2 separate regions of the Homo sapiens genome follow, and region 1 is linked to region 2. The links come from fine-mapping of genetic effects on gene expression. A gene starts in region 2. The other region holds a variant in brackets. All regions are shown on one strand. Distances are from middle to middle. Region 1 has its middle 10 kb from the start of MRFAP1. Region 2 holds the start of LINC02482 (long intergenic non-protein coding RNA 2482).

Region 1 (15,097 bases), 23 kb after region 2:
AAGGCTACTCTCCCTACAAGCCTCCTCCCAGATGGAAAGGGAGCGTGCCTTGGAGTGGCCAAGAGCCATGCAGGGACCGTCCCTTCATCCGCATAGGGCGCCAGTTCACCCCAGCCTTTAGCCACAAACCAAAACCTTCATCCACATAAGAGGTAGCTGGTAAGAACCTCAAATGAAGTACTTAAAGCCCAGAAAACTTTCTAACTGGCCCTTGAGCTGCTTGCTCGGGCCCGCTCCCACCCTGTGGGTGCTTTCTCGCTTTAAGAAATTGCTGCTTTCCCTGCTTCTGTTCCTGCGTTTCATTCCTTTGTTACTTTGTTTGTGCGTTTTGTTCAATGCTTTGTTCAAAAGGCCAAGGACCAGGACAACCCACTCAAGGCCCTCCTCACGGTAACGCAAGGCCACAGCGCCGCCGCCCCTTCCCGCCCCGGGCCAGCCGGGCACCCACCAGCCGTGCGCGGACACCTCGCTGTCACCCGCGACAAGTTCTTGAAGTTCCTTTTTAGTTTAGATAAAATTTTACTCTAAAACTTTCAGCCCTGAAACAGCGAAGGCCACACCCAAATGGCCTTCCCGCTGCCAGCCGCCGCGGGGCCTCCTCGAAGCTCCTTTCACGGCAGCTCCAGGTTGCCACGCGCCCACGGGGGTTTCGGGCGGGGTCCCGTATCGTGCAGGCGCCATGGCGCGCTCTCGTCCCCCTTCCCCCACGCGCCCTCGCCTGCGCGGGCTCTGGGGTGGAGTCTGAGAGGGATTCCAGGGTTGGGGTTTTAACACTCAGTTGCGAGTGATTTTTGCACCAGAAACGGAAGGTTGCACCGAATACCGTGACCCAGGGCCACGAAACCCACGGCTGCACCTCAAACCGTCCCCGCCTCGCCAGGGAACCGCTGGCTTGTCTCCGCCGGCCCGACACAGGCCAGGCGAGGTTTTTGGAAACAAAATTGTTACCAAACAGTGGCATTTCCCAGGACAGCTCTTTGAAGGTAGAATCTGTCCGCACGTCTCCGCCAGGGTTGGCTGCCCAGCAGGGGCTCGGTACATTTTGTTTACCCTAAAGAATGCTGTCTGGAGGGGGTAGAAGATATGTTAAGGCCGGGCACGGTGGCTCAGGCCTGTAATCCCAGCACTTTGGGACGCCGAGGTGGGCGGATCACCTGAAGTCCGGAGTTTGAGACTAGCCTGGCCAGCATGGTGAAACCCCGTCTCTACTAAACGTACACAAATTAGCTGGGGGTGGTGGCGCATGCCTGTAGTCCCAGCTACTCGGGAGGCTGAGGCAGGAGAATCGCTTGAACCCGGGAGGCGGAGGTTGCAGTGAGCTGAGATCCAGCCATTGCACTCCAGTCTGGGTGACTAGCCTGAGACTTTGTCTAAAAAAAAAAAAAAAAAGATACGTTTATATTCCTGGTCTGTGGCCCACAAACGGGCTAATGGTAAAGACTGGGGAGACCCTGCTTGCACAAGTGCCCCTGATTGGAAACTCAGTTCTCTAGGGGTGAAATGGAGCTGGTAGGCCCCTGTGACTGTGAGAGAAGTGAGAAAAAAAGGCATGACAGTGCATTGTACAGTTGCCAAAACACCAGGCAGAGGCAGGTGGCATCGCTACTATGACAGTCATTAGACTACACAGTGCATTCAGAGTCGTGTGGGAACTACATCCAATATTCGGACCCTGGCTTCACAACCTGCTGGCTGGGGGACTGAGGGCCAATCAGCCTGAGGGTAGCTCTCTTGGCCTGTGCCACCACCTGAACTTAGTGGAGTTGGGTACCATCACCTCTAGGGAGGTGTGGCAGGCAGAGTGACCCCCATAGAAGTCCACATCCTAATCCCTGGAACCTGTGATTGTGTTATAAATTATATGACATATTTTGTAATTACGAATATATCATATTACATGGCAAAATGGATTTTGCTCATGTAATTAAAGTTAAGGGTCTTAAGGAGAATGAATAGCCTGGATTATCCAGGTAGGCCCAGCCTAATCCTGAGTCCTTAAAGTGAAAAACGCTCCTAGGCTGGAGTCAGAGATAGAAAACGAAGGCAGAAGAGAGATTTGGCAGAAGAAATCCGTGCTATTCCAAGCAGGAGATGACTGGTCCTGCCTGTGCTGACTCTGAGATGTGGGGGGTTTGGACCCTAGCTTCACAGCTTTGTGGCTGGGGCGGGGCGGGGCGGGGGGTTGGACAATGAGGAGGATTTGACAAACCACTGCTGGTTTTGAGACACAGGTGGCCACATGAAAGGACAGGAGGGAGGCCTCCAGGAGCTAAATGTGGCCCCCAGCTGAAGCCCAGCCTGCAACCACAAGGAACTGGATTCTGCCAGCAACCTGAATGCACTTAGAAGCGGTTTCTCTCTGGAGCCTCCTGATAGGAGCCCAGCCAGCCAACACCTTGATTTTGGCCTTGTGAGACCTAGAGCAGAGAAACCTTCTAAGCCATTCGTGACTTCTGACCTTCAGGACTATGATGATAAATGTGTGTTATTTTGAGCTGTTAATTTGTGATAATTTGTTGTAGCAGCAGTTGAAAACTTGAAGCTTAGTCTGCAGAAAGTCTAAGGATGGATAAAAATGAATGAAGACCCTCAAAGCCGTGCCCCCACCTTATTATTCTCCTCTGGGTTCTCCTAACCCTAATTCTAACCCTATCTTCTTTTTTTTTTTTTATACTTTAAGTTCTAGGGTATGTGATCACAACTTGCAGGTTTGTTACATATGTATACACGTGCGATGTTGGTGTGCTGCACCCATTAACTCGTCATTTACATTAGGTATATCACCTAATGCTATCCCTCCCCTCTCCCCACCAACCCCACAATAGGCCCCAGTGTGTGATGTTCCCCTTCCTGTGTCCAAGTGTTCTCATTGTTCAATTCCCACCTATAAGTGAGAACATGCGGTGTTTGGTTTTTTGTCCTTGTGATAGTTTGTTGAGAATGATGGTTTCCAGTTTCATCCATGTCCCTACAAAGGACATGAACTCATCCTTTTTTATGGCTGCATAGTATTCCATGGTGTATATGTGCCACATTTTCTTAATCCAGTCTATCATTGATGGACATTTGGGTTGATTCCAAGTCTTTGCTGTTGTGAATAGTGCTGCAATAAACGTATGTGTGCATATGTCTTTATAGCAGCATGATTTATAATCCTTTGGGTATATACCCAGTAATGGGATTGCTGGGTCAAATGATATTTCTAGTTCTAGATCCTTGAGAAATAGCCACACTGTCTTCCACAATGGTTGAACTAGTTTATAGACCCACCAACAGTGTAAAGGTGTTCCTATTTCTCCACATCCTCTCCAGCACCTGTTGTTTCCTGACTTTTTAATGATCGCCATTCTAACCGGTGTGAGATGGTATCTCATTGTGGTTTTGATTTGCATTTCTCTGATGGCCAGTGATGATGAGCATTTTTTCATGTGTCTGTTGGCTGCATAAATGTCTTCTTTTGAGAAGTGTCTGTTCATATCCTTCGCCCACTTTTTGATGGGGTTGTTTGTTTTTTTCTTGTAAATTTGTTTGATTTCTTTGTAGATTCTGGATATTAGCTCTTTGTCAGATGAGTAGATTGCAAAAATTTTTTCCCATCCTGTAGGTTGCCTGTCCACTCTGATGGTAGTTTCTTTTGCTGTGCAGAAGCTCTTTAGTTTAATTAGATCCCATTTGTCAATTTTGGCTTTAGTTGCCATTGCTTTTGGTGTTTTAGACATGAAGTCCTTGCCTATGCCTATGTCCTGAATGGTATTGCCTAGGTTTTCTTCTAGGGTTTTTATGGTTTTAGGTCTAACATTTAAGTCTTTAATACATCTTGAATTAATTTTTGTATAAGGTGTAAGGGAGGGATCCAGTTTCAGCTTTCTCCATATGGCTAGCCAGTTTTCCCAGCACCATTTATTAAATAGGGAATCCTTTCGCCATTTCTTGTTTTTGTCAGGTTTGTCAACGATCAGATGGTTGTAGATGTGTGGTGTTATTTCTGAGGGCTCTGTTCTGTTCCATTGGTCTGTATCTCTGTTTTGGTACCAGTACCATGCTGTTTTGGTTACTGTAGCTTTGTAGTGTAGTTTGAAGTCAGGTAGCGTGATGCCTCCAGCTTTGTTCTTTTGGCTTAGGATTGACTTGGCAATGTGGGCTTTTTTTCTAACCCTATCTTTTTATACATTTTGGTGGATTCTCTTTAATATTTCCTCTAGAGTGTGTGTTGCAAATATCTTCTCCCAATTGAAGCTTGACTATTTTCTTTTAAATGGACTTTATTTTTTAGAACAGTTTTAGGTTTATAGAAAAATCGAGAAGATAGCACAGAATGCAGCTCAACTTTTCACTTTGATGATGGTTCCTTTGATTAGCACCATATTTTAGCTTAAAAATTGACTGCAAAAAAGTAAAATAAATTTATTATAGTAAAATATGCATAGTAGATTTACCATTTAACCATTTAAGGGTACAGTTCAGTGGCAGTAAGTCCATTCAAACTGTGCAACCATCACCACCATCTGCCTCAAGAACTTTTTCATCCTCCCAAACTGAAACTTTGTCCCCATTAAACATTAATTCCCCAATCCTCCCTCCCCCAGCCCCTGGCATCCACCATTCTACTTTCTGTCCCATGAATTGGACTGTTCTGGCTTCTTTAAAAATTGAGGTGAAATTAATGTAACATAATTACCCACTTTAAAGTGTACAATTAAGTGGTATTTAGTGTATTCACAATATTGTGTAACCACTAGCTCTCTCTAGTTTCAAAACTTTCTCATCTTTCTATAAAAATACCCAGTACTCAAGGCCAGGTGCGGTGGCTCACGCCTGTAATCCCAGCACTTTTAGAGGCCGAGGTGGGCCGATCACAAGGTCAGGAGTTCAGGACCAGACTGGCCAACGTGGTGAAACCCCGTCTCTACTTAAAATACAAAAATCAGCCAGTCGTGGTGGCGGGTGCCTATAATTCCAGCTACTTGGGAGGCTGAGGCAGGAGAATCGCTTGAACCTGGGAGGCGGAGGTTGCAGGGAGCCAAGATTGCATCATTGCACTCCAGCCTGGGCGACAGAGTGAGACTCCATCTCAAAAAAACAAAACAAAACAAAACCCAGTACTCATATAATAATCACTCCACATCCTGCCTCCCCTTACCCAATGGCCAATACTCATCTCCTTTCTGTCTCTGTGGATTTACCTGTCTGTACATATCATATGTGTTAGTCTGCTAGGGCTGCCGTAACAGAATACCACAGACTGGGTGTTTAAAACAACAAAAATCTACTTTCTCATGATTCTGGAGCCTGAAAGTTCAAGATCATGGTGCCAGCAGGGTTGGCTTCTCCTGAGGCCTCTCTCCCTGGCTTGAAGATGGCCTTTTCTTTTTCTTTCTTTCTTTCTTTCTTTTTTTTTTTTTTTAGACAAAGTCTGACTGTGTCACCCAGGCTGGAGTGCAGTGGTATGATCTTGGCTCACTGCAACCTCCGCCTCCCAGGTTCAAGCGATTCTCGTGCCTCAGCCTCCTGAGTACCTGGGACTACAGGCATGCCCCACCACACCAGCTAATTTTTGTATTTTAAGTAGAGACGGGGTTTCTCCATGTTGGCCAGGATGGTCTTGAACTCCTGACATCAGGTGATCTGCTGCCTCAGCCTCCCAAAGTGCTGGGATTACAGGCGTGAGCCACTGTGCCTGGCTATACTTTGTTAATTTTTATGGCTGAATAATATTTCTTTGTATGGCTATTCCGCAGTTTATGAATGAATGTTTATTCATTCATCAGTTGATTCTGTTGGTGGCCATTTGGGTTGTTTCTGCCTTTTGACTAGTATATGCTGCCATCAGCATTCATGTATAAGTTAAGATTTTAGTTTTGGTGAAGACAAAATATCAGTCTTTTCTGCTTTTTGCTTTTTGTCTTGTAAAGAAAGCCTTTCATGCTCTGAAGCCATACAAATTTTCCTTTAAGTTCTCTAAAGTATTTAGTTAGATAATTAGTTTTTTATATCTGTGGGTTACTCCATCTGAAAATAATTTTTTTGTGATGTTTGTGGCAGGGATCTAATTGCAGTTTCCCCCACATGTATAGCCATTTGTCCTAGCCCTACATGGTGACTGTTTTTGTTGTTGGTGGTGGTTTTTTTTTTTTTTTTTTTTTTTTGAGTCTTGCTGTGTCACCAGCCTGGTGAGATCTTGGCTCACTGCAATTTCCACCTCCCGGGTTCAAGCGATTCCCCTGCCTCAGCCTCCCAAGTAGCTGGGACTACAGGCATGTGCCACCATGCCCAGCTAATTTTTTGTATCTTAGTAGAGACGGAGTTTCACCACGTTGGCCAGGATGGTCTTGATCTGCTGACCTCGTGATCCGCCCGCCTCGGCCTCCCAAAGTGCTGGGATTACAGGCGTGAGCTACCGCGGTGGGCCCATGCTGACTGTTTTATCCATTCTTTCTGGGTTGCTGTGTAACGTGTGTCAGGTATCGTATGTCCATATTTGCTCATATCTGTATCTGGGCTGTATACTCTGTTCCACTGGTCTTTACCTATCTCTGGGCCATTACTCCATTGACTTAATTACTGTTAGCTTTATAATAAATATTAATATTTGGTAAAGTATAGCAAGGCCTCCCATCTGGTGCTACTGCAGGAATATCCTGGCTTTCTGCTTGTCCATCTAAATTTCAAATTTGTGAGTTCCCTGTGCTCCTCCCCACACCCACCAGACTCAAGAGATCTCCTGCCTCAGCCTCCAGAGTAGCTGGAATTACAGGTATTTGCCACCACATGCAGCTAATTTTTAAATTTTTTGTAGAGACTAGGTTTTGCCATGTTGCCCAGGCTGATCTTGAACTCCTGGGCTCAAGTGATATGCCTGCCTCCACCTCCCAAAGTGCTGGGATTACAAGTGTGAGCCATTATGCCCAGCCAAATTCATGGTTTTTATTTTTATTTTAGTTTTAGAGACAGGGCCTTGCTCTGTTGCCCAGGCTGGAGTGCAGTAGTGCAATCATAGCTCACTCCAGCCTGGAACTCCCAGGCTCAAGCAATCCTCCTGCCTCAGCCTCCTGAGTAGTTGGGACTACAGGCATGCACCACCACACACAGCTAATTTTTTTTTTTTTTTTGGTAGAGATGGGGTCTTACTATGTAGCCTAGGCTGGGTTTGAATTTTTGGCCTCAAGTGATCTTCCTGCCTTGGCCTCCCAACATGCTGGGATTACAGGCATGAGCCACTGTACTCAGCCCTCAAATTAATTTTTTTTGTAAATTCAACCCAAACAATCAAAACAGACCCATCTGAAGAGATTTTTATTGGGACTGCCTTGATTTGTGGGAGCAGTTTGGAGAATAATTATGATACTAATTTTCTTAATCTATTTTGTCATTATTTAATGTATTTCAACATAATTTTATGCATAATGGTTTTTCACATATTAAAAATTTAATATATACGAATATATATTTTCCAACCATTTGTACTGGGTTGAATAATGTCCCTGCAAAATTTTTCTGCCCAGAACCTTAGAATGTGACTTTATTGAAAATAGGTTCTTTGCAGACCTAGTTAAGATGAGGTTAGACTGGATGAGAGCGGGCTCTAAATGCAATGACTGGTGTCCTTCCATGAAGACAAAGGGAAGAAGGCCATGGGATAATGGAGGCAGACTGGACTGACGCAGCCACAAGCCAAGGAATGCCAAGAATTGCTGACAATTACCAGAAGCCAGGGAGAAGCAAGGAAAGATTCTTGCCCAGATGGTTCAGAGAGCCCATGGCCCTGCCAACACCTTAATTTTAGACTCCAGAACTATGAAAAAACAAATTTCTGTTTTAAGCCACTTAATTTGTGGCAGTTTGTTATGGTATCCCAAGGAAACACACCATTAAAAAAAAGTTTTTGGGTTCTATTATCAGTGGTACCTTTCAGAAAATATATTTCCTCTTCGTTCCCGGTAAAGAGAAACACTACTGATTTTTATTGATTTTTGTGTCTAGAAACCTTGAAACTCTAGAAACTATTATTAATGTTGGCAGTTTAGATTCTTTTGAATCTATGATGTCTCAGAGACATCATATCATGGGAATATAACTGATGCAGGACAAATTGGGGCTTAGCCTGGGAGGGTTCTTGGCTTCCTCCAGGAAGGAATTCAAGGGTGAGCCAGTGGTGGTAGACAGCAAGAGTTATTGATGCAGCAGTGCACAGTAGCAGCACAGGTGGTGTGCTCATAGGCAGTGAGCCCAGAGGAGCTGCTCAGGGCAGTTCTGCAGTCATATTTATGCCCACTTTTAATTACATGCAAATTAAGGGGTAGATGCCAGGTGCGGTGGCTCATGCTTGTAATCCCAGCATTTTGGGAGGCTGAGGTGGGTGGATTGCTTGAGATCAGGAGTTTGAGACCATCCTGGCCAACATGGTGAAACCCTGTCTCTACTGAAATACAAAAATTAGCTGGGTGTGAGGTGGCTCATGCCTATAATCCCAGCTACTAGGGAGGCTGAGGCAGGAGAATTGCTTGAACCCAGGAAGTGGAGGTTGCAGTGAACTGAGATCGTGCCACTGCACTCCAGCTTGGGTGACAGAGGGAGACTCTGTCTCAAAAAATAAAAAAAAAGTCTGGGTGTGGTGGCTCACTCCTGAAATCCCAGCGCTTTGGGAGGCTGAGGTGGGCAGATCATGAGGTCAGAGTTCGAGACCAGACTGGCCAACATAGTGAAACCCCGTTTCTACTAAAAATACAAAAAAATTAGCTGGACATGGTGGCAGGCACCTATAATCCTAGTTACTTGGGAGGCTGAGGCAGGAGAATCGCTCGAACCTGGTTGGCGGAGGTTGCAGTGAGCCGAGATCGCGTCACTGCACGCTAGCCTGGGCGACAGTGCAAGACTCTGTCTCAATAAAAAGAAAAAATAAATAAAGTAATACACTAAAAAAATTAAGGGGTAGATTATGCAGAAAGTTCTAGAAAAGAGGTGGTAACTTCTGTGTCATTGGGTCATCGCCATGGAAAGCGGCTGTAACTTCTGGGGGTTGCCATGGCAATGGTAAACTGATGGCACTGGTGGGCGTGTCTCATGGAGAGGCTTCCAACTCTTCCTTGTTTCAGCTAGTCTCAGTCTGGTCTGGAGTCTAAACCCTGCCTCCAGAGTCGAGTCCCGCCCCCTACCTCATAACGACAATAGTGGTGGTGGTTTTAAAAATACGTCCACATGATAAAAAGGAATTTGAAAAGATTAAAAAAATATGTCCACAATCTTCTTGCTACTCATCTCTTCAGTAGGTGGAGCATAATTCTTCTCTCCTGGAGTATGGGCTGGCTTGCTTCTAACACACAGAATAGGGAGGAAAAGGGAGGAATGGGAAATACATGGTGCCTATGGCCTTTGGGGATCATCAAAGGTCTTGCTCTCTAGCAGAAACTATTTTGCCTCCTTCCCTCTAGGTCCCTGGCTTTTGCCTCAGGGAGACTTTATTATCTATTATCTTCTCAGGCCTTGTATGAAATGTGCCTCAGAGGTTGCCCCCTCCAGGGGCTTTGCAGTTTCTGAAGCCTTCTTCATGCTGGTGCAGGTGCTGGGGCTCAGCACTTCCTTCAGGGGCTGAACAACCCCAAGTTTTAGCAGACTCACCTTGGAATTTCTTTGGCCATATATTTCCTTCAAAACCTTCGGATGACTTTGGGAGACTGAGGCAGGAGGATTGCTTGAGCCCAGGAGTCTGAGACCAGCCTGGGCAACGTAGGGAAACCGTATCTCTCTAAAAAATAAAAATAAAAAAATTAGCCAGGTGAGGTGGTACATGCCTGTGGTCCCAGCTACTGGAGAGGCTGAGGCAGGAGGATCGCTTGAGCCTGGGTGGTTAAGGCTGCAGTGAGCTGTGATCAGACCACTGCACTCCAGCTTGGGCAAAGCAAGACCCCATGTCTCAAAAAAACAAAAGGAAAACAAGAAATAAAAACACAAACAAGGGGGCCGGGCGCGGTGGTTCATGCCTGTAATCCCAGCACTTTGGGAGGCCGAGGCAGGCGGATCACGAGGTCAGGAGATCAAGACCATCTTGGCTAACATGGTGAAACCCCTTCTCTACTAAAATTACAAAAAATTAGCCGGGCGTGGTGGCGGCTGCCTGTAGTCCCAGCTACTCGGGAGGCTGAGGCAGGAGAACGGTGTGAACCCGGGAGGCAGAGCTTGCAGTGAGCCGAGATCATGCCACTGCACTCCAGCCTGGGCGACAATGCGAGACTCCATCTCAAAAAAAAAAAACAAACAAAAAAAACACCACAAACAAGACCCGCTCAGATGCTTCCTGCCTGTTTGCTGTCAGCCAGCCCCAATGTGCAGGCAGCCACAGCCCAAATCTTGTGAAGATGCCGGCATTTTCCTCACTGCGCTCTGTCCTTCCCCTGCTTTCCCAGTGGTGTCCCTGTGGAGCCAGTGTCCTTGACAGGAAGGTGACAGTCATCAGCTGGTGTTTGCCCACGTGACTGGCACTCACTTTCTGAGGAAGGAC[C/T]TTTACTGAAGATGCTTGAGAAAGGTTTGGGGCCTCAGTCTCATTTCCCTGTAAGATGGCTTCTTTTGGAGCCATCTCCCGTAACTCTTTGGGTTTGGGATGCAGAACCCCTTTCCTGTGAGGCCCCAAATGACCAGCAGTGGTGCCTCTCCAAGCTCATTCATAGAAGCTACTGCAGGAAGCACAGTTGAGTGACAGTCTCCAACTGCCACATCTTTGCCTCCATAGCGATCACACCAAGGCCATGCCTGTCCTCCCTCAAAGAGACTAAATTCAGGACTAAACTTACTAGCCTGTCACTGCTGTTTCTCCCATTGATGAACCAAGGAGAACTCAGCCTAGGACAAGTTTCCAGTGATGTTCTCCACTCCTCTTCACCCCCAAACCTGTTCCTGGGCCTCCAGCATGTGCCTGACTTCTTGGAGGAGCTCTGCCCTCCCCCGACCTTACCCCTGAGAATAGTGCTATTTCATCCTCAGGCCTGTGAGGGAAAAGCCACTCATTTCTATATGTCCCTCGTGTGTCAATCAGAATTTGGGGGCAGTGTTCTCCCAGGCCATGTCCACACTCTACTTCTCCTCCCTCTTGTCCAAAATGGTGCTCCTTGGGAGCACTCCCTGGTCATCTGACTGTCCTCTCCCTCTTCTCACCTCTGTCATCCTCCAATCTCTTTTCACCCCATTGGAGTCCCGTCATTCACTGCAAACTTGGGCACCTGGCTCCTGGCCTTCCCCTCCACCCCAAGCCCTGCCATCGTCCTGAGCGAATTCCATGCTCACACAGCCACCAGCCCCACACCTGGGCCCTCATATCCAAGGAGCTCCTCCACCCTGCTTGGCCATTCACTCCCAAGAGTGACTTGGGGCTTGTTATTGTCTCAGACCTGGCCTACTTAATATCTCTGTGCCTCATTGATAAGACGAGACTAATTTTAATAATGGCATCTGCCCCACTGAGGGGTCGTGAAAGGCTTTTGAGGAATTGTAGGTAACTGGCACATAGTAAATGCTTCACAGGTGTTAAAACAAGAATTGATCTGAGGCCCCAGAAGCACGTAGCTCGCAGGATGTCATCCACAGATACATTTTATTTGACAATCAGAGTTTTTAATATGATAAATTGCTTTCCAATATCAGCCCTCCTATTTTCTGGCCACATCCCATCCTCCAGGTGACACTTTCACTGTAGTCACTAACATGCTGGGATCTCCATTCACTTTACCAGCTACTTTCGCCTATTGCTCTCCTGCTCTTCACCTCCATACTTCCCCACTCAGAGTACATCATGTATTGTTGCAGTGATGTCCTTGTCAAAACCCTAAGCTCTTTTTTTCTTTTTTCACTCCTCTCTGGCAAAAATGCAGTCCTGATGAACGCAGTATCTGCCCCAGGCAGTGGGCAAGTGCTGTAAGGAACCATCACCAACAAGGCTACAGGGAAGCCCAGGGCTTGGGGAAAATCTAGTTTCAGCTGTTAAGAGTTGGTAAAGAAATGTTCTTTGAAGAGGCAAAGAATAATATGGATTAATTTGGGAATAATGGAATGCAGGATTTTGTGAACCATGGTATAGAGTTTGAAGGAGGAAGCAATGGGGATATAAACCAGTAAATAGGTACCACAGAACATTATGGAAATCAGAGACGGGGAAAAGAGAATTGACTCAGAGAGGGTCTAACATATGCTGGGCTGTGTATTAGTCTGTTCTCATGCTGCTATGAAGAAATACCCGAGACTGATAATTTATAAAGGAAAGAGGTTTAATTGACTCCCAGTTCCACATGGCTGGGGAGGCCTCAGGAAACTTACAATCATGGCAGAAGGGGAAGCAAACCTGTCCTTCTTCGTATGGCGGCAGGAAGGAGAAGTGCAGAGCAAAGGGGAAAAAGCCCCTTGTAAAACCATCAGATCTCGTGGAAACTCACTATCACAAGAACAGTATGGGGGTAACCACCCCATGATTCAGTGACCTCCCACCGGGTCACTCCCAGGACAAGATGAGATTTGGGTGGGGACACAGCCAAACCATATCAGGCAGTGACTGAAGCAGGCACTGGATGGATTTTGTAGATTTACCTGGCCACAGTGTTAACCAGGGTAATAAATCCCCATTTATCTCTGGAAGATGGTAGAAACTCAAGCCACTCCATGTTTACCTGCTGCCTGGAAGGGGGAGAATGGCCAGGAGTAGGAGTTTGAACTAGCGCTTTCTTTCACCTTGAAGTCATTAGAAGGCAGAGGAAAGTCAAGAGCTCCACGTGAAAGCCAGAGACAGAAGATAACCTGTTGGACAATGCCTGGGCTAGTGGGAGGGATGTGATCAACGGGCCTCAGGTAGAAGGGAGAACAACCCTTTCATCAAAACACAAGGAATGGAAGAAATAATGAATATCTGTATCAGTCATCTTAGTCTAAGTTGTTATTGTAACAAACAATCCCCAAATCTCAGTGGCTTAAAACAACTAAGGTTTTTCCTTGTTTGTGGTATATACTCATCATAGATTGGTAGGGAACTGTGGTCATTAAGCTCAGCCACCATCTGGAATGTTGCTGGTTCCTGTGCCAGAGGGAAGAGACAGCTCTGCAGGGTGTTGCTTTGGAGGTTCTGGGTTGGATGCAACAGATGTAAGTTTCCTTTGTAGCTCATCGGCCAGAATTAATCACGTGGGCCCACCCAACCCCAAGGGGGCCAGAAAGTGCCATCTTACTCTGTGCCTAGAAGGCAGAGAATTGGAATTTATTTGGTGAACAGCACTAATGACTTCTACATTTTAACCCAGAAAAGCTTCATTGCTCTCTGAGGTTATTTCCAGCTCTGCCATCCTGTAATACCAGGACTTTGGGAGGCCAAGGCAGGTGGATCACTTGAGGCCAGGAATTCAAGACCAGCCTGGCCAACATAGTGAAACCCTGTCTCTACTAAAAATGCCAAAATTAGCAGGGCATGGTGGCACCCACATGTAACCCCAGCTACGCGGGAGGCTGAGGCAGGAGAATTGCTTGAGCCCTGGGAGGCAGAAGTTGCAGTGAGCCAAGATCATGCCACTACACTCCAGCCTGGGCAACAGAGTTAGACCCTGTCTCAATAAATAAATAAACAAATAAATAAATATGGCAACTCCAGCCAGAAAATTTAATGACTGTACAGCCACGTAAGACTGTCTCTCAGAATGCTTCTTACCACATTCTTTGCTTAGAAAATGCAAGATTGGATTGCTCCTCCAATTGCTAGCAAGCCAGGAGTATGAAATTCAGGAGCTGGGGCAATTGGGAATTAGTGGCTGCATTGCAGTTGTGACCAGAATCATAAAAAAGAGGAACTAAGGAGTTACTGGAAAGATTTTAGGACAATAGTTTTCAAACTCTGGCATAAGAATGAACACTATGCAGCCTTAAAAAAAAAAAGAATGCAGATTTAGATGTTAGATAGGAAAAGACTTCCAAGTAAACAAATGAAGGACACGAACAGATTATACAGTGTGCTACCATTAATGTAAAAAACAAAACAAAACAAACAGGTGGCCTGGGCGCAGTGGCTCATGCCTGTATTGCTAGCACTTTGGGAGGCCAAGGTGGGTGGATGGCTTGAGCTCAGGAATTTGAGACCAAAATGGCCAAGATGGCAAACAACTGTCTACAAAAAATACAAAAATTAACCGCGGTGGTGTTCCAGTTACTCAGGAGGCTAAGGTGATCACTTGAGCCCAAGAGTTCAAGACCAGCCTGGACAAATAGCGAAACCCCACCTCCACAAAAAAAAAAAAAAAAAAATACAAAAATTAGCCAGAAATGGTGGTGTATGCCTGGTCCCAGCTACCAGGGAGGCTGAGGTGGGAGGATCACCTGACACCAGGAAGTCAAGGCTGCAGTGAGTGGTCACAACACTGCATTCCAGCCTGTGAGACACAGAGACCCTGTCTCACCAAAAACAAAAAAAAGTGGAAGCCGTTCAAACACATTAGTATTTGTAAGGATGTATAAGAAACTTCTAGTTTCCTGAGAGGGGAACTGGGAAGCTGGGGAGAGATGAAGGATCACTTTCGTGTCATTTATAAATCTTACTCATTGAAAACAATCGACTTCCCGATGCAATGTAGTATCCCAGAACAGAAAAAGGGCCTTAGTGGGGAAACTGGTGAAAGCAGAGAAAAGTCTAGTTGGTAGTGTTGTACCAATGTTACATTTCTTGTTTTGGCAAATGTACGAAATGTAGTTTTCGTGGTTGTTTCCCAGTTCATAATTCTGTCCTATACATTTCTTCTCCCTCCTCTGTGTGGAACTCACACAGAAAACCTTGAACATCTTCCATTGTTTCCTGTGCCTAGCATGCCTCTCCTGCTCTTCCTGACCTCGGAAGCTGTGCTCCTCTTTCAAGGCCAAGCTCTGAAAGAGTTACTTGCTCTGGAAAGCTTTCCTAGACCTCCCCCTCAAGTGTTCTCCTGGGACATTCTATCTTTATTAGTGCTAGGGACACATGGCTTTGTTTGATTTCTACCAACTAGGTTGCCCAGAAAGTGGACTCCAAGATGAAAACTAGATGCACGTTTTTTAGGGATTAACACTTGTGGAAGAGGAGGAATGCAAGGCTGGGACGGGGGAGGAGGTG
Region 2 (8,000 bases):
CTCCTGCCATCCCACTGACATCCTATATAATGATGTTCCTCTTTACAAGTTTGCTAAAGCAAATTTAACAATCCCAGGGAAAATTTTTTTAAAAAAGGAAATGTATTTAACTGTAAGCGCGCTTGCCTTACCCGAGACACAAGACTCAAAGACAGGTCTCCCGAAGGATCCCCCATTCCCCCCGCCCCATTTCCATCCACGGGCGGCCTCTGCAGCCCACGCTGGGCCCCTGGCCTGTTTCGTGTTCCCCATGCTTGAGGTGCTGTTTGTGTAGCTGTGCCCATGCTTCCGCTCAGAGCAAGTCAGTGGGTCTGAGGGGACTCCTCCCTAAGTCCTCCCACCAGACACAGCGTAAGCACCTCTTTGCCTGTGAAAGTCCTTGTTTACATCTGCAGTCCCAGATGAATTTCTATTAATAGAGCCACCCTTCACTTTCAAAAGTGGCCCAGTTTGTTTGACAAATGGTACTAAATAGGTGCTCAGGTCCCGAGCCTCAGAGCCATTGCTGAATCCTCTCATGTCCACAGGCAGGCCCTCGGCACTTTCCCAACGCAGTCCACACCCGTCCCCATCCACACAGCGCGTGCTCCACTCTCCACGCTGCCTCCCACTCTTGTCCTGGTCCCCCACTGTCAGGCCTGAGCACAGCAGCCACCACCTCAGATGGTCAGCTCCCATCGCTCCTCTGCTGGCAACCCCCCACCAGCTTCACATCCACCCACTTCTCCCTCTGACCTCGGTGCCCACCACTTCCTCCCTTCCCACTGGGGTTTCATGCTGCCTCACCTTTTTACCCTACTTGTTCCCCGTGCCTAGAAGACTCTTTCCCCAGACACCCATGCACATTCCACACATCAGCCTTCACTCAAATGTCATATCAGACATGTTACCTGACCATGCAAATCAACTAGAAATCCCACACCCTATCCCCCAATGCCATTTTTTTCCCCCACAGAACTTACACTATTTAATATGGGTACATATCATTTTTTTCCTGCTTCCCTCATTTAGGGGTTATCTAACAAATACTTAGGAAACACTTACTATAGCCAGACACAATTCTAAGCATCTTATGAATAACAAATCCAACTTTTTTTTTCTATTAGAGACAGGGTCTCACCATGTTGCCCAGGCTGATCTCAAACTCCTGGCCTCAAGCAATCCTCCTGCTCAGGCCTCCTAAAGAAATGGGATTACAGGCATGAGCTACCATGCCTGGCCCTCAGATCCAATTTTACAAGCACTTTGTTCACTCAGGTAGTCTCAGCATCTGTAGGTGCTCAATTTATGCGTTGAATCAAAGACCAGCATTGCGGACACTGTACTGTAATTGTGTTTTCAGACCTGTCTCAACCCACTAGATCGTCTCTCCAAGAAATTCCTAGTGCCTGGCATAGTGTGGAGCTCTGTGGTCACAGTGAACACTAGCTGCCTGAATGGACTTCACCTCTCCAAAGGCTGGGGCCAGACCATATGGCTTCATGAGGCACCCCTTTCCTACTCTAGGTCTGCCTTCTTCTTCTTCTGCAGCTCAAACCCCACCCTGGGCTACAGGCTTTGAACAACTCGTGAGTCAGAAGCAATTCTCCTCCATTTGACAGTGACCACTATCAAGGAGAAACTCATTTTGAAAAATGTTTATTTACCTTACCTTTTCTTGGCCAAGTCAATTGCTTTGGTCATCTGCACAAAGATTCTAAACACTGGCTTTCAGCATTTCTTTTTCCAAGCAAATGAAATTTATCATAACAAGACAGAGCTCTGATTTTAGTCTCTGTGGAGTCTGGGCTCTGATGACCTAGGCTAGTCATCATCTAAGCCTGGAATGACTGTTTGGGACCCCCATGGCCAGCTTGAAGCTTTCCTTCCTCAGCCACTCTGGGCCCCTGAAGAGGTCACATGCATCTGTGGCAGAGACTGTATTATAACAAAGTTGTTTACCCCAAAGTCAGCAAACACATGTACCTAGAACTCATCCCAATTGTAGGTTGCTCACCAGACAGGTTACACGATGTGCACCAGTTAACATGCCATAGGAAAATTACATTCCAAGAAAAAGCAAAATGCTATAAAAACAAAAAAAACAAAACACCCAAAACAGCTCTCCCTCCTTTGATCTGATGGTCTGCAGAGGTCCTCAAATCCACACACTGCCACTCTTCAAGACCAACCGTCCACTGGGCCTTCTTAATCTCATCCAAAGTCGCATTCACAACTTTGACAGGAGCTTGGGTTCTTCATGTGGCAGCTGCAACCATGTAGTGTCTTCTCACTTGCAGAACTCTAACCTCAAGTCTCTCATGAGTCCCCAAATTCCAGGAAGCATAAAAAAACAGCAAAGCACACGAGTATACTTCCAAACTTTGAAAATACAATAAGATCACAGGAACAAATATGACCACGCAGCAGCGTACGTACTGTATAGGCCATATTCCTTTACGTGGGACATTAATGAAAAGCTGTCTTTTCCAAACTGAATGCGCCTATTAATAAAAAAATACACCTGACCATCTAATGCTGAAGTCATCCGCCAGGATGGTACTGGAAATTGAGTGGCTAATGTGGAGAAAACGCAGGCAGAAAAACAGGGGAGACAAAACGAAAGGCTCTCTTGGTTTGAGCCTGTCCAAGCAGCCACGACTCCTTATCAGGTGAACACAGTTCGTCAGTTGGCCACCTAAAGTACAAGTGGGAGAAATTCATCATCACAACATAAATTTTGAGCTTGATATTCTCATATCCGGGAGTCAAACAAACCCAACCACCTGTGCACAATGCTTCCACCTGCAGGAAGGTCATCGCAAACGCTCCAATCTCGTAACAACATTCACACGTTTCCAGCATGTACCTCCGCTTCACACCTCTCTCCCCCCACGTAGTGACCCACCAGGTCTACGTCCTGAAAATACTTCCAGTGGTCATGACTCTTTACAACAACATATCAAATTATTTTCTCTAATTACCTATGAAAAAAGAATGAAACCAACTCCGCGGAGAGCGTGGCACGGCTCTGCGCTCCCCTCCCTGCCTACCCAGCGCCTTCCACGCGGGACACTCCCCGCCGCGCTCCGCTCCAGACCCGCGCGGCCTCGCCGGCTCAGCAGCACTCGCAGCCGGCGATCCGCTGGTGCAGCTCCACGATCCGCCTGCCCATCCGCGCCGCCTCCGCAGCCTTCCTCTCTGCTTCGGCGCACAGCCGAGCCACCCGCTCCTCAGCCTCCGCACGCGGGCGGGGTGCTGGGGCCCGGGCGCCCCGCTCCTCTGCCTCCACCTCACTCTTGATGGCGTCGAGCAGGCTCTGGATCTCCAGCAGCTTCCTGCGGGCCCGCCAGTGCGCCCGGGCGCGCTCGCGCTCCAGGGAGGCCAGGTTCTCGCGGCCGGCGCGGGGCGCGGGGCTCAGCGGGCTGCCCGGCTCCTCGCGGGGCTCCCGCGCCTCGTCCGCGTCCACGGGCCGCATCACGCCGCCGCCTCTTCCAGCCCGCGGGGCACGCCGGGGCTGCTCACCAGCAGCGAGCGCGGAAGCCTCGCTGTCACCAACGACCAGACTAGCAACAGGTTGCCCCAACTTTCCGCAGCGAGGACGGTATCCAAAATGGGCTACTAGCCGTCGGCCAGGACGCTGCCACTGCGGCCCTTTTACGACACCTGCGGTCCTTTACCGCCACGCAGCAAGCGAGAACCGCATTCGGGGCTCCCGCCTCAGCGGTCCTGCGCGCGCACGCGCACTTGCACGCACGCGTACCCCCCCGCACGCATGCGCACCCCATGTCCCCGCCCGCTGTAGCGCCACAGCTCTTTGGGCGTTGATTCTAGGGTCAGGGCCCTCACTCACACTGCTGGAAGGTTAAAGTCGACTTCACGCTAGTTTAAGGAAATATCTGACGCTGATAACCATGTCCCAAGCACTGCTCTAAGTTCCCAATGTGTCCGGAATTGGTGGGTTCTTGGTCTCACTGACTTCAAGAATGAAGCCACGGACCCTCGCGGTGAGTGTTACAGCTCTTAAAGTGGCGCGTCTGGAGTTTGTTCCTTCTGATGTTCGGATGTGTTCGGAGTTTTTTCCTTCTGGTGGGTTCGTGGTCTCGCCGGCTCAGGAGTGAAACTGCAGACCTGTTACGGCTCATAAAGGCAGTGTGGACCCAAAGAGTGAGCAGCAGCAGGATTTATTGCAAAGAGAGAAAGAACAAAGCTTCCACAATAGAAGGGGACCTGAGCCGGTTGCCACTGCTGGCTCCGGCAGCCTGCTTTTATTGTCTTATCTGGCCCCACCCACATCCTGCTGATTGGTAGAGCCGAGTGGTCTGTTTTGACAGGGTGCTGATTGGTGCGTTTACAATCCCTGAGCTAGACACAAAGGTTCTCCAAGGCCCCAGCAGAGTCGATTGGTATATTCACAAACCCTGAGCTAGACACACGGTGCTGATTGGTGTATTTACAATCCCTGAGCTAGACATAAAGGTTCTCCACATCCCCACCAGACTCAGGAGCCCAGCTGGCTTCACCAAGTGGATCCCACACCAGGGCTGCAGGTGGAGCTGCCTGCGAGAACGGCACCGTGCGCCCACACTCCTCAGCCCTTGGGTGGTGATGGGACTGGGCGCCGTGGAGCAGGGGGTGGTGCTCGTCGAGGAGGCTCGGGCAGCACAGGAGCCCATGGAGGGGGTGGGAGGCTCAGGCATGGCGGGCTGCAGGTCCCGAGCCCTGCCCCTCGGAAAGGCAGCTAAGGCCCGGTGAGAAATCGAGCACAGCGCCGGTGGGCTGGCACTGCTGAGGGACCCAGTACACCCTCCGCAGCCGCTGGCCCGGGTGCTAAGCCCCTCATTGCCGGGGGCTGGCAGGGCCAGCCGGCTGCTCCGAGTGCGGGGCCCACCAAGCCCACGCCCACCCTGAACTCCAGCTGGCCCGCAAGCGCCGTGTGCAGCCCCGGTGCCCGCTCGCGCCTCTCCCTCCACACCTCCCTGCAAGCTGAGAGAGCCGGCTCTGGCCTTGGCCAGCCCAGAAAGGGGCCTCCACAGTGCAGCAGTGGGCTGAAGGGCTCCTCAAGTGCTGCCAAAGTGGGAGCCCAGGCAGAGGAGGCACCGAGAGTGAGCGAGGGCTGTGAGGACTGCCAGCACACTGTCACCTCTCACCAACATTCTAAATCATAAACACCCAGGCCGGGCGTGTGGCTCACGCCTATAATCCCAGCACTTTGGGAGGCTGAGGTGAGAGGATCGCTTGAGCTCAGGAGTTCCATACCAGCCTGGGCAACAAGGGAAAAAACCCTACCAAAAAAAACACAAGAAATTAGCTGGGCGTGGTGGCGCGTGCCGATAGTCCCAGCTACTTGAGAGGCTGAGCCGGGAAGATTGCTTGAGCCCAGCAGGTCGAGACCGAGGTGAGCTCTGAACGCCTGATTGCGCCACTGCACCCCAGCCCAGTGACAGGGCGAGACCCTGTCTCAAAATAAATAAATAAAAATAATAAACAACCGAATTCAGTGGTCCCGTTAGAATATTCCAGGCTCCGAGAAGCCAGGTGCTCACAGCGTCGGGATTTGCCCCCAGCCAGGGCCTCCGCTCCCTCTTGCCTCGGGCAGATGCTCCTGGAACACAGAGCTGCGGCCTCGGTGCTGATGCTGAGTGCTGTGACCCAGCCTCCCCCTACTTTTTTCCTAAGGGTATAAGCTTCACTCTGCCTGGGGCTTTGGCTGTAAGTTGGAGTCTGGCTTTACCCACTGTGGGCACCCAAGGCCAAGGTGGGTCTGATTCACCACTGTTTCCTCAGCCCTGCCAGGCTCTGAATATGCCTTTAGGAATCATTCTGGAAGATTTCTTTCTTCACTGGACTATATAAGTGCCTCTGCGAGAAAACAGGCCCTAGGGGCAGGTACTTAGTCAGTTTAGTCATCTGTTTCCTCAGCTTGAAATGGGCTTGGCATACAGCAGGAGCCCAGTAAATGTTGCTTTAATGCTCATTTCCCAAGAGATCTTTATTAAGCACCCACTGCATGTCATTGTGTCTAGGCTTATTCACTGTGTACCTCTAGCAGAAAGTTAAGGGGACCCTCCATGCTTGATGGCCAGAGGTCACTCTCAGCTCCTACAGGTCACTCTCCGGTCCTTAAACGTGGCCCTCTCCATCTTCAAAGCCAGTAAGAGCATGTCGGATCCTTCTTATCCTTCCAGCCTCTCTGTCATCCCCTTCTGCTCCCAGCTGGAGAAAACTCTGCTTTTAAGGGGCTTGCCATGGTCCAAATATGTGAGTCCCCCCAAAATTCATATGTTGCAAAGCAATCCCCAATGTGATGATATTAGGAGGTGGGGTCTTTGGGAGGTGATGTGGTCATGAAGGCTCAGCTTTCATGAATGAGATTAGCACCCTCATAAAACAACTCCACAGGGCCGCCTTACCCCTTCTGCTGTGGGAGGTTATAGCAAAAAGATGGGCTTCTATGAACCAGAAGTGGGCCCTCACCAGGCACCAAACCTGCTGGCACCGTGATCTTGTACTGCTCAGCCTTCAGAACTCAGAAAATACATTTCTGTTGTTTAGAAGACACCCAGTTTCTGGTATTTTGTTAGAGCAGCGTGAACGGACTAAAATAGTGCTTATGTGGTTGTGTAACAGCATCGATTCCATGTTAAAGAACAATTTTGCTTGCTCAATTATAATTATTGCTTTGCTTAAGTTTTAGACTATGCTAAAAACAGCCTCAGGACCTTCAGCACTGATCAACAATCCTGGGCATGGGCTGACCGACAGTTTTCACCCAGAGAGTGAAGATCATGGAGGAGCCATCTTAAATTCTGCCCAGCGCAGGCTCCCAGGAATCCTAATGTCACGATCTCACTGCAGCCAATGTGACAAACACAGCAGTAATTAAGTCTAGAGAGCTAAACACACCTCAAAAAGAATTGTCTCTTGGTATGAGTGGAATGGAATAAAATACATGGAAACCCACAAAAGTTTCGAGGTGAACATATTAGCAAAAATGCTCTAGCTTATCCAAGCGACAGTTCAAAGTGTCAAAGGACTTCTAGACTCCCAATCTTTCCACCGGCAGAAAGCAGGCTCAGTAGCCCAAACTGGCGCATTTTAAAATGCCCTTTTCAGAAGTGTGATGGAAAAAGAAGGATGTGTCAGTGCAGGCCAGTGTGTGGGGACCAATGGCAAACTGCAGCTCCTGAACTAAGAAAGACTTTCATATCTTTAAAAAAGAAAAGGAGAAATAGGAATATGTGATAGAGACTGTATGTGGCCCACAAAGCCTAACATATTTACTGTTTAGATCTTTACAGAAAATGTTTGCCAACTCCTGTGCTGCTGAGCCACTTCCAGGTTGCAGAACCAAAGCCTTACATTCCCTAGCTTTAAAGTAGAGGACCTGGCAATGTTTACTCCACCGAGTTTCAAAATAGCTATGTGACTGCTATTTCACCCCTTCATTCTTCCCTTACCAATGGGCCTTATCCTGTCCCTGTCTCATCACTGAATGTTGGGTCTAAGTGGACAATAACTTGTCTTTTCAAAAAGTGCATAAGCTTCTAGACCAATAAAAGCCATATTAGGACCTGATGTGGCTCACAAGATGCTAGACTTCTTGCTTGAGGCCATGATTGGAAGAAAGTAGGAAGGGGGTCCTTAGATGGGGGTGGGCAATTTTTCCATGAATAATGGGGGCAGTGGGCACAGATGATGGTAGGTAGTATAAATGACCCCAATTCCCCACCCCTTCATTCATCCATGTTCTCTGCCTCATGTCTTGCTTTGGCCAATGAGAGGTTCACAGAGAGGACACAAGCACAGGTTTGAAAGAGGCTTTCGCGGTTGGACTCGCTTTCCTCTGCGTCTCTGCCTTCGCTATGAGAAGAACGGGCACCGGTCTTGGGAAGATGGTGAGAGAAACACAGAACCAAGCTGCTCTAGACAGGCCTAGCCTAGACCAGGTGGCCCGCAGACCATTACTGAGCCCAGCCTGGATCATCCAACTCCCAGCCAAACTGCAGACCATGAGGAAT

The links. PIP is the estimated chance that this variant, and not a neighbour inherited with it, causes the effect.
Region 1: its variant is fine-mapped to the expression of LINC02482 in atrial appendage (GTEx, PIP 0.95).

Annotation. Positions count from the first base shown.
Region 1 is chr4:6,643,371-6,658,467 of GRCh38, reverse strand. It overlaps the pseudogene LOC124900840. Among named protein-coding and RNA genes, the nearest start is that of MRFAP1, 10 kb to the right of the region's middle. The variant C/T (reference allele first, on the strand shown) is at 10,496.
Region 2 is chr4:6,669,670-6,677,669 of GRCh38, reverse strand. LINC02482 (long intergenic non-protein coding RNA 2482) reads left to right here and starts at 3,789. Exons shown (of 2, transcript NR_134665.1): 1 at 3,789-3,986; 2 at 6,677-6,942. It overlaps MRFAP1L2 (Morf4 family associated protein 1 like 2), which reads right to left and starts at 3,595. Exons shown (of 1, transcript NM_138699.3): 1 at 1,623-3,595. The coding sequence starts at 3,457. The coding sequence ends at 3,098. RefSeq lists a silencer at 3,291-3,520 and an enhancer at 3,993-4,601.